Linked DNA regions of Homo sapiens. The protein of the gene in region 1 purifies or fractionates together with the protein of each later gene. This does not show direct contact. Each region holds a gene or a part of one and is shown in the gene's direction. Other genes may lie near its edges. The genes, in order: PISD, WDR19 and IFT140.

Region 1 (3,263 bases):
TGGTTACCCAGCTGGCTGGGTCGTAGCTCCTCAGCGCTATGTGCTGCCGTGCCAGTGCCTGTGTGGCAGAGCTGGCCCCTGGGGCCCACTCTCCTGGGCTGCGGAGGCTGAGGGATGTGAGGCAGGCCCTACACCCTGCTCTCCCCTTCCTGGGCCCAGGTGCTTGGGCCTGGAGGCCCTTGCTGGGAGCTGCTGCAGCTGAGAGGTGCCCCGCAGCTGGGCCTGACTCTCCTCTTGCGGCTGCCCCCACATTCCCAGTCCTCCCCAGCTGGCTGGCGGGTGGGAGAGCCTGGGAAATGAGTCCGCTAGCCAGAGGCAGCCAAGCCCCTGAATCAGAATGGGGTTGGGACGAGGGGGCACAGCCAGTGCTTGCTGGGCTCCATCACCCCCATGGAGAGGCAGCTTGCCAAGGGTGGGTAGACAGGAGGAATCCTGCCCTGGGTGCAGGTGGCAGCCTCCTGGGTCCTGCCCAGAGCCTGGCCACTGACCTGGCTGTGCATGGACCTGTGCCCTGCAGGTTGCACTTCCCCCAGCTGGCCCTGAGGCGGAGGCTGGGGCAGCTGAGCTGCATGTCCAGACCCGCTCTGAAACTGCGCTCCTGGCCCTTGACCGTCCTCTACTACCTCCTGCCCTTCGGCGCCCTCAGACCGCTCAGCCGGGTGGGATGGAGGCCCGTAAGCAGGGTAAGTGTGCACAGGCCCCTGTGGCTCGGACCTCCCTTCCGGGCAGGCCTGAGGTTGGGGTGCAGGAGAGACTGAGGTGGTGGCGAGCTGTCAGAAGCAGAGGTCACCGCTACATCTTCAGGGGGTCCGGGTCGGAAGGTTCATTGGTGGGCAAGGCCAAGGCAGCTTTTGAGAAGGCCACTACCTGGGCCGCGGGTGACTGCGAGGGCATGTCGTGCCCTGCCCACTCCCCTAGCCTGCCTCATGTCTGCCATTTGGGGCTCTGGTTCTGGAAGGAACCCAGTCTGGGGATTCAGAAAATGGTGTCTGTCTCTGATTTTTCTGTGTTCAAGCAAAAAAGAGCTTATAGGTGATTTTGAACAGAAGCCAAATTAATTCCGGGATGCCAAAGGGGTGGTTCAGGATGGATGGATCCTGTTTGGGTCCCTTAGGGTGAGGACACCCTTAAGGAACCCAGAGGCATGCCCCAGGAATGGGCAAGGGAACTGGCTTGTCCTCTCCTGGTCCCTAGAGGGCTTGCTCTTGCCCTTGGCTTCCCAGGCAGGTTGACCCCAAGGAGGAAACCCTGTTCCTGGGCCTTTGACAGTCACATGGGTGTCATCAGAGCTCAGGGGCACTGAGGCACCCTGGACATTAGCCCAGGCTCCCACCTGTGCCTGGGAAGGGCCTGGGCTCACATAGCCCTTCTGTGTGACTGGGCATCAGCTGGAAGGGATAAGAGCAGCTCTCTGGGAGCTTACCTTACCTTGGAGAGGTGTTGAAAGTTGGAATGAAATCAGTTTTACACCTTGGGGAGTTGGTGTCTTGGTTGTGTTTAGAGAAGCAGCAGCCACCAATTACAGGCAGCTTCTACAGTGGCAGCAGCACCTGAAGTTTAAGAGGCTGCCCCTTCCTGGGTACCTGGCCCTGCCGGAGAGCTCTGGGACCATCTAGTGGGACCCAGTGCTTGTCCCCAGGCCATCGTCTGTCTTAGGTGCTCCAGGCTTCCCTGAAGGAAGAGAGAACAGAGGGGCCTGAGGGGATGACTTCTCTTTGCCTCCTGGGAGGAACCCCAGGTGCAGATGGCTTTATGGCCTGGCTCAGTCACAGTAGAACGTTGAACACAAGTCCTGCCGTGGGGCCAAGGTGGGGCTCAGCAGGGCTGGGCTTCTCAGACTGGCTGCATCCAGGCCCTCAAGAGTGCTGGCTGGACCTGTGGGGGCTGCAGACCCTGTGTCTGCAGCTCAGGCCCAGGTGACAGTGACATCGCAGACCTGCATCTGAAAATCCCTGTTGGTGCTCAGGGTATCCTCCTTCTTCCTGTTAAGACAGAGGGACACACTTTGGGCTGTAGACTTGTTCCATGCACTTGGGAGCCTCCTCCTTTGGTGGTCTGGGATATGGGCAGTGACCACGGGCAAGATGCCCACCACCTCTCCACACACTGTGATATTGGGGTCACCGTGGCTAGGGTCACACACTGTGGTTAGGATCAGATCCGTTTCCGACCCCCACTTTAAGAAGTAAGACTGCTGGGCGTCTCCCGTTCTGGGACTGGAGCAGTTGCTATTTGACTTTTGCATGAAATGATGAAATCCACTGGAGTTGTATGTAAATCCAGCACTCCGTGTGGCAGGTGCAGTCTGGTTCCCAGTGAGAAACAGCCACATCACAAAAGCAGCGTGGGGCACCTGGGCCCTGGTGTCCTCCGTGGGGTGCAGATTCTCCCCTGAAGTGAGAGCTGGGCTAATGACACTACTTGGGCTCTCTGGAGCTGGGGCAGTGTGGTCAACTCAGCCCCTTGCCCTGTGGCCTGCAGGTGGCTTTGTACAAGTCAGTGCCAACGCGCTTGCTGTCACGGGCCTGGGGTCGCCTCAATCAGGTGGAGCTGCCACACTGGCTGCGCAGGCCCGTCTACAGCCTGTACATCTGGACGTTTGGGGTGAACATGAAAGAGGCCGCTGTGGAGGACCTGCATCACTACCGCAACCTCAGCGAGTTCTTCCGGCGCAAGCTGAAGCCGCAGGCCCGGCCTGTCTGTGGCCTGCACAGCGTGGTGAGGCCTGACCCTTTCCTCCTGCAGGAAACAGGACTTTTTCCTGCCTCCCCAGCACAGCCCCCCTGGTCTCCAGCGTATCTGGAAGGGGCAGGATGACAAGGGGAGGTGGGGGCTGTCTCCTGGGGGGAGGAGACCCTGCTCTCCCTGGCAGCAAGCCTCTCCTGCCCTTCCAGATTAGCCCATCGGATGGAAGGATCCTCAACTTTGGGCAGGTGAAGAACTGTGAGGTGGAGCAGGTAAAGGGGGTCACCTACTCCCTGGAGTCGTTCCTGGGCCCGCGTATGTGCACAGAGGACCTGCCCTTCCCACCAGGTGGGTCACTGCACAGGCGGGGCTAGGCAGCCCTGCTGCTGTGTGGCTGGACCGGGAGGGAGGGGAATGCTGGGGAAGGAACTGAGGCTGGCATGTGGGGCCTCCCTGAGAATCCATGTGCAGACCACACTCGGGCTCCGTGCTGGGTGCTCACTGTGTTGGTGGCCCCCACGTCTGCTCCTACTCCACAGCCGCGTCGTGTGACTCCTTCAAGAACCAGCTGGTCACCC
Region 2 (3,651 bases), on another chromosome or scaffold:
ATGGTTTTGTCTGTGCTAAACCTGTGCAGAAAACTTTTGTTGTCTATATTCCCCATACAGTATGACAACTATTTACATAGCATTTATATTGTATTAGGTATTATAAGTAATCTAGAGATGATTTAAAGTATAAGGGAGGGTGTACATAGTTTATACACATATTACACCATTTTATTCAGGGATTTGGCCATCTGTGGGTTTTGCTATCCGTGGGAGATCCTGGAACCAATCCCTCATGGATGTTGAGGGATGATTGTATATTTATATTTGTTGACATGCATTTTAGAGAAGCTTTTGAAATAAAGTATCCCTAGTGTAATTTACTTCAATCATGTGAGTTAATTTGTTTCTTAATACCCACTATTATCAAATACTCAGTATTATTGAAAAATTTCTAAACACAAGTACAAGTGTGTTCGTAGTTTAAATTTCTGTCATCCTGAGCAGCTTTAATTTTTTTTCCTTAACCTGAAGCTTTGTGTCTAGACTTGTGGGTTCTCCTACAAATTTGCCAGATTTTAGATCAAACCTTGGCTTTTCCAAATAACTATAGTTTTTTCAAGCCAGACCTAGGATAGGAATGGAAAAAGAAACTTTCTTTCCTGTTGTTGTTGGAGTGATGTTAGGTTGAATATGACTCAGTAAGCTAAGCCAGCTAAGGCTGCAAACAGGCTTCTACCACGGCAAATGATAATGATTCAAGTACAGACTTGGGGCAAATCTGTAAATTTTATTTTGTAGGTCAATGACGCTACCTATGAGATTCCAGATTTTTCACCAACCATTAAAGGTGTTCTTTGGGAAAACTGGCCAATGGATAAAGGTGTATTTATTGCTTATGATGATGATAAGGTGTACACTTATGTCTTTCACAAGGACACTATACAAGGTACTAAACCCCTTTTGTGTATATTCGCTGACAGATGAATTTCCCATTGCAGTAAAATTAAAACATTCTTTCTGATGTTTGTGCTGAGTATTAGCTTTCAGCATTGCGATGTCTGTTTTATAATGTAGGAGCCAAGGTTATTTTGGCTGGTAGCACCAAAGTTCCTTTTGCTCATAAACCTTTGCTGCTATATAATGGAGAGCTGACCTGCCAAACACAGAGTGGAAAAGTAAACAACATCTACCTTAGCACCCATGGCTTTCTCAGCAACTTAAAAGATACGGGGCCTGACGAACTGAGACCAATGCTGGCACAGAATTTAATGCTAAAGAGGTAGGCTTTCACACACTTCTTTTGGAACTTCTCATTTGCTTTTGTGATTTTAAAGGTCAAATCCTATAATTATTCTATCTTATTTTATTGCTTTATTCTTTATCCTTGCAAGAATTTTTTTTTTTTTTGTAAATGTAGAAGTACAAGTGCAGTTGTGCTACATGGATATAGTGCATATGGTGAAGTCTGGGCTTTTAATGTACCCATCACCAGAATAGTGAACACTGTACCCAGTGGGTAGTATTTTATCCCTCAACCCTGTCTCACCATCCCGCCTTTTGGAGTTGCCAGTATCTATTATTCCACCTGTATGTCCATGTGTACCCATTGTTTACCTCCCACTTCTAAGTGAGAACATGCAGTTTTTGACTTTGGGGCATTTCACTTAGGATAATGACCTCGAATTCCATCCATATTGCTGCAAAAGACATGATTTCATTTTTTTAATGGCTGAGTAGTATTCCATAGTGTGTATATCTATATATACACACCACTTTTTAAAATCCAGTCATCTGTTGATGGACACTTAAGTTGATTCCATGACTTTGCTATTGTGAATAGTGCTGCAGTAAACATATGAGTGCAGGTGTCTTTTTGATAAAATGTCAAATCCTATTCAATAGATGGAGATAACAGCACTTACCTTGTTCATTTCACAGGGATATTGTGAGGCTCAGATAAGATAGTCAGCTGTTTTTATTATGAGTACTTTATTACAAGAAAAGCCCTTAAGAACAAAACGGTTTCTAAGCTTCCAGAGAGCCTAGTTATTGGGAAATCCTAATAAAATAAACCTAATTATTTCAACAATATCTTGACTTCATCATAGTGAGGTTTGATTTTGCTTTGCTTATAATTTCCTTTTACTGTTTTTTTCTCTTATCTCCTAGAGCCACCGTGAATTCCTTTGACGTTCTAATTCTTCCGAGCCTCTCTTAAATGCTGCTGTTTATTGGGGTCTCATGAGTTTCCTTCTCTTCTTACTCTAATTATTCTTCCTGAGTGAATCTCCTCTGCTTAACATGGCTCAACATACCACCCATATGAAGCTGACTCTAAAATCTGTGTCTTTATCTTAAACCTGTACTTACAACTACCTTCCAGTCATGTGTCCTTGGAAGTCCATGAGCTCTTCAAACTTGCCCTTTCTAAAACTGAACTCATCAATTTCCACAGGCCCCTATTTTCCCTCACTGTAATCACACATGCACATGCCTTAACACACATATACACCAGCTCCTTTCCTCCTCCCGTGTTCCCTCATCTTTACCCAGGCCCTCACCTGGAATAATGTGTAATGTAACTAACCACTTCCTAACTGCTCTGTCTGCCAATAGCCTTGTAACGATCTCATCTGTTCTCCACACACTTTTGAAGATGTGATTTGATCCTCTTATTTCCCTGCTCAGGATCCTTCAGTGACTTTCTATTGCCTTTACAAACAAATCCATTCCTGGGGGACCTCTATGACCTACTAGGCACTTCATGATTTAACACCAGCTCAACTGTCTCCACTCAAGTCCCTCTCTGTTCCACTGGCTGCTGAAATTGCATATATTTCATGATTCTTCCTGGAATGCCCTTTCCCTGCTCTGAATGTAGTAACCCCTCTTTCTTTACCCATCAGCGATAAGTGGAGCCATCTCCTGCTCCAGGAAGCCTTCCCCGACTTCCCCACCACCACAGGCAGTCCTGCTTGGGGTCTTTCTGATGTGTTGCCTCAGAGCCAGGATGCAGTATACACAGTGGTGAAGAGCATGACACCACTTACCTCTGTGTGCCTTGGGCTAGTCTTTTGACGTCTCTAAGCCTCATTTTCCTAATCTATAAAGGAGACATAATAATAATACTTAGTGGGTAGGGTTATTAGGGTAAGAGAATTTATGCAAAAGACTTAGCACAAAGAGTTACCTATTGTAAGTACTCAGTTACCTCTGTCAAACTATGCTATAGTCATTTGTTTCCTTATCTGTCTCTTCCACCTTCCCCAATTGTGACTGCCTTAAGGACAGCAACTGTGGTTGATTTTTGTATCATGTTTCCAAGCATGTAACGAGTTCAGTAAATGTGTGTTGGATGAAAAAATGGATAGGTGAATAGATAAATGGATGAATGAATAGATAGATGGATGTAATATATTCACTCATGTAGAGGTTCCACAAAAAGTTTAATTGGCATTTATGTTCATGTTTTAAACCAGAGGTCGGAAAACCTTTTGTGTTAAGGTCCAAATGGCAAATATTTCAAGCTTTACGGGCCATAGGGTCTCTATCGCAGCTACTCAGTCTGGCTGTTGTAGCAGGAAAGTGGCCACAGACAATCCATTAAAGAGTGGGCTGGGCCGGGGACGGTGGCTCACACCTGTAATCCCAGCACTCTGGGAGGCCGAGGCGGGCGGATCATGAGGTCAGCAGATCAAGACCATCCTG
Region 3 (3,651 bases), on another chromosome or scaffold:
CCCATGTTTCCCCCACTTGGTGAGTCTCCATGAAGTCACTGAGGACCAGAGACTCCAGGCTCCTGAAGCCGGGACAGGCCGTCTCAGCAAGCACGGTGCCTCTGCTCGGTTGTTTCCTCACACAGGTCAAGCTGAGCGGGAAAACCGGCCGCCGGGCAGACATCGCTTTGATTGAAGGCAGCCTTCTCGTGATGGCCGTCGGGGAGGCTGCCCTCAGGTGAGAGTCTGCCTTTCCAGTGCCCCTTGATGAGAGTTCCCTGAGGAACAGGCTCCTCTAAGTCAGCTTTGTGTTGGAATGGAGCATATGTAAAATGCACATATGATGCTGAGTGCTCTCATACTGGACGTACCCATTCACCAGCTCCCAGACTGAGGAGCTGAGCATTAAGAGACCCCAAGAGTCCCTGCCCGCCCCACTGCACTCCCTCGGGGCTCCCCTTACCCCCAGGTGGCCCTGCCTTGGTGTTTGCCCGTGGAATCTCTTTGCCTGGTTTTTCGGAGTGTGGCATAACTAGAATCAGTCGTTGTGGTCTCTGCTGCCTGCTGCGTTAGCTCAGTGTGCTGTCCGGGGCCATCTCGTGCTCTGTGTGGGGCTGCAATTCCTGTGTTCTCTTGGCGACCTCCTGCCATATACAAACCACCATCTATCGGCAACGGCTTTCTTTCATTAGAAACAGGACATAAAATGTCCCAAATGTAACAGCAGTGTTCGTTTTCATATCAGGAGTCTGATGAACTATGTCTTTTTCCTGACTTTTAATGTTTGCTCCACAGGTTCAAAAACCCCTCAGAGGGAAACGCCACTAACACAGGCCCTCCATGGGGCTTGCTTTCTTCTGTTGTAGATTCTGGGACATAGAACGAGGAGAGAATTATATACTGAGTCCAGATGAGAAGTTTGGCTTTGAGAAAGGAGAGAATATGAACTGTGTGTGTTACTGTAAAGTCAAAGGTGAGGCTTCCTGGCCTGGCACAAGAGAAACAGAACCAACCACAAGCATTGTGCGCCGGCTGCAAAATAATGGTAGTGAAACGTGGAGGCTACTCACACAATGGTAACTTGGTAACTCACAGCCATTCAAATAGTCGGGCAAGGGCAAGCAAGCAACGGCAGAGCTTTGTGATCCCACATGAAGGCCAGGGGGTTTGGTTAGAAGCATGACAACCTGCATCCCAGTACTTGGGGAGGCTGAGGAGGGAGGATCACTTGAGCCCAGGAGTTCAAGACCAGCCTGAGCTACATAGTGAGACCCCGTCTCCACAAAAAATACAAAAATTAGCCAGGTGTGATGGTGTACAGCGGTGGTCCCATCTACTCAGGAGGCTGAGGTGGGAGGATTGCTTGAGCCTGGGAGGTTGAGGCTGCAGTGACCTAAGATGGTGCCAGTGCACTCCAGTCTGTGTGACAGAGCGTGACCCCATCTAACAAGAAGCAAACCGATTCCTGCTCATTGATCTCTGTTCCCTCCTGAAATGCCACGGGAAGGACAGTGCAGGAAGTGTGTGTGTGTGTGTGTGTGTGCATGCATGTGTGTGTATGTGTGCATATGCACATCCAGAGCACAGGAGACTAGGAGGTGAGCCAGAGCCGCGTCTCTAGTGCCTGCTGAGTGCTGAGCATGGGGCAGCCCCGAGCCAGGCCAACTGGCCTCTAGGAAAGCTGGGAGAGCAGCATCCCCCACCACCCCCGCACTGGCACTGTGAGGTCAGGGCAGCAAGGACCTGGGCAGAAAGATGCAGCCAGGGATGAGGTGGAGAGGCACCAGACTGGGCGAGGGCTGATGCTTTGAAGAAGGGGGTTAGAGAACAGAGCTTGTTGCTGTTTTGTTCCCTTTTTTTAACTCTGTTCACATGCAGTTTGTTTCTACCTGTAGGTCTTCTGGCCGCTGGTACCGACAGAGGGCGAGTAGCCATGTGGAGGAAAGTACCAGACTTCCTGGGCAGCCCCGGGGCAGAGGGCAAGGACAGGTGGGCCCTTCAGACCCCTACCGAGCTCCAAGGAAACATCACGCAAATCCAGGTACAGCCTCCAAGGGTGTTCGGTGCACTCATTTTCTGCTGCATGAAAGTGGAGACCATGGCCGGGCGCGGTGGCTCACGCCTGTAATCCCAGCACTTTGGGAGGCCAAGGCGGGTGGATCATGAGGTCAGGAGATCGAGACCATCCTGGCTAACACGGTGAAACCCTGTCTCTACTAAAAAATACAAAAAATTAGCCGGGCGTGGTGGCGGGCGCCTGTAGCCTCAGCTACTCAGGAGGCTGCGGCAGGAGAATGTCGTGAACCCAGGAGCTGGAGCTTGCAGTGAGCCGAGATTGTGCCACTGCACTCCAGCCTGGGAGACAGAGTGAGACTCCGTCTCAAAAAAAAAAAAAAAAAAAAAAGAAAGTGGAGGCCATAAATGACTCTGAACCTATTTTTATCAGTTATTCAACTTAAGACTATGTGAAAATAACAATAATAAGACATTTTAAAAGACCTTTTGGATTTCAGAATTGCAGATAAGAGATTGTGGACCTGTATTAGTTATAATATGTATCTACCCACGAACCCATCCCTCCCTCTCCATCTCTCTCTATCTGTATGAAAAAGAGCTTTACTGAGATATAACTCATGATATATACAAAGTGGTTTTTGGTATATTCACAATTTTACAAACATCACTGCAGTGAATTCTAGAACAGTTTCAGCGCCACAAAAAATCTGTACCTTTTAGTGGTCGCTCTTATTTTCCCCTCTCCAGCCCTTGGCAGCCACTAATCTACCTCCTCTCTCTAAGGATTTGCCCATTCTGGATGTTTCATGGAAATGGAATCACACAACACCTGGTCTTTTGTGCCCGGCTGCTCCCACTGAGCTGAGGTTTCAAGGCCCCTCCAGATTGTAGCCTGTGTCAATGCTTTGCTCCTTTTCATGGCTGAATCACATTCTCTGCTGTGAACAGACCACGTTTTCTTTCTCCATTCATCAGTTGATGGACATTTGAATAATGCTGTTACGAACACTTGTGTACACGTTTTTGTGTGAGGATGTTTTAATTTCTCTGCAGCATTTGGTTCTTTCTTATGATTTCTCTCTGTTCCTGTTCTCTACCTGATGAGACACTGTCGTTGTAGCTTCCTTCACTTCACCAGGCTGGTTTCCTTCAGCTCCTTCACCACGTTTCCAGTGGCTGCTTTGAAGTCTTTGCTAAGTCCAACATCTGAGCCCTTTCAGAGCAGTTTCTGATGTCTGGGTTTTTTCCTATATGGAATTTATACTTTCCTATTTTGCATAGGTCTTTATTTATTTTTAGATAGATTTAGAAGTTTAATATAAAATTATGAAACCAACATTTCACATCAGCAGAAGAAAGCTGGATAATTTAATCCATTATGTAAACTTCCTGTCTGTTTATAAAAAACATAAACATCCCTATGTCACACTCAGAAAAGTGTGTCCCACTCAGAAAAACTCTAGAAAACGCTCTTCCCATCAGAACAGACATACCAGTGCTGCCTGTCCAATCACAACCCTTGAGCATCAGTATCTTGAAGTCTTTCTACACAGCATACTCTTTACCTTTATAAGACTTTTCTTATAATGTCTTATAAGATCATTTTTTAAGTCCGGAACAATGGTACTTGGAAATGGTTTCTGAGTTCTCGTGTGT

The links.
Region 2: the proteins of PISD (region 1) and WDR19 purify together in Homo sapiens (affinity purification with mass spectrometry; one large-scale study listed by BioGRID and IntAct). This does not show direct contact.
Region 3: the proteins of PISD (region 1) and IFT140 purify together in Homo sapiens (affinity purification with mass spectrometry; one large-scale study listed by BioGRID and IntAct). This does not show direct contact.

What each region holds. Positions count from the first base shown.
Region 1 is NC_000022.11:31,621,104-31,624,366, reverse strand, and holds part of PISD (phosphatidylserine decarboxylase proenzyme, mitochondrial), read left to right. Parts: intron 1-517; coding exon of another isoform or gene 518-683; intron 684-2,481; coding exon 2,482-2,718; intron 2,719-2,835; exon of another isoform or gene 2,836-2,894; coding exon 2,895-3,033; intron 3,034-3,224; coding exon 3,225-3,263. UniProt on the Homo sapiens protein: Catalyzes the formation of phosphatidylethanolamine (PtdEtn) from phosphatidylserine (PtdSer). Plays a central role in phospholipid metabolism and in the interorganelle trafficking of phosphatidylserine.
Region 2 is NC_000004.12:39,227,469-39,231,119, forward strand, and holds part of WDR19 (WD repeat-containing protein 19), read left to right. Parts: intron 1-741; coding exon 742-889; intron 890-1,017; coding exon 1,018-1,222; intron 1,223-3,651. UniProt on the Homo sapiens protein: As component of the IFT complex A (IFT-A), a complex required for retrograde ciliary transport and entry into cilia of G protein-coupled receptors (GPCRs), it is involved in cilia function and/or assembly.
Region 3 is NC_000016.10:1,584,499-1,588,149, reverse strand, and holds part of IFT140 (intraflagellar transport protein 140 homolog), read left to right. Parts: intron 1-125; coding exon 126-217; intron 218-845; coding exon 846-952; intron 953-964; exon of another isoform or gene 965-1,021; coding exon of another isoform or gene 1,022-1,055; intron 1,056-1,874; coding exon 1,875-2,020; intron 2,021-3,651. UniProt on the Homo sapiens protein: Component of the IFT complex A (IFT-A), a complex required for retrograde ciliary transport and entry into cilia of G protein-coupled receptors (GPCRs).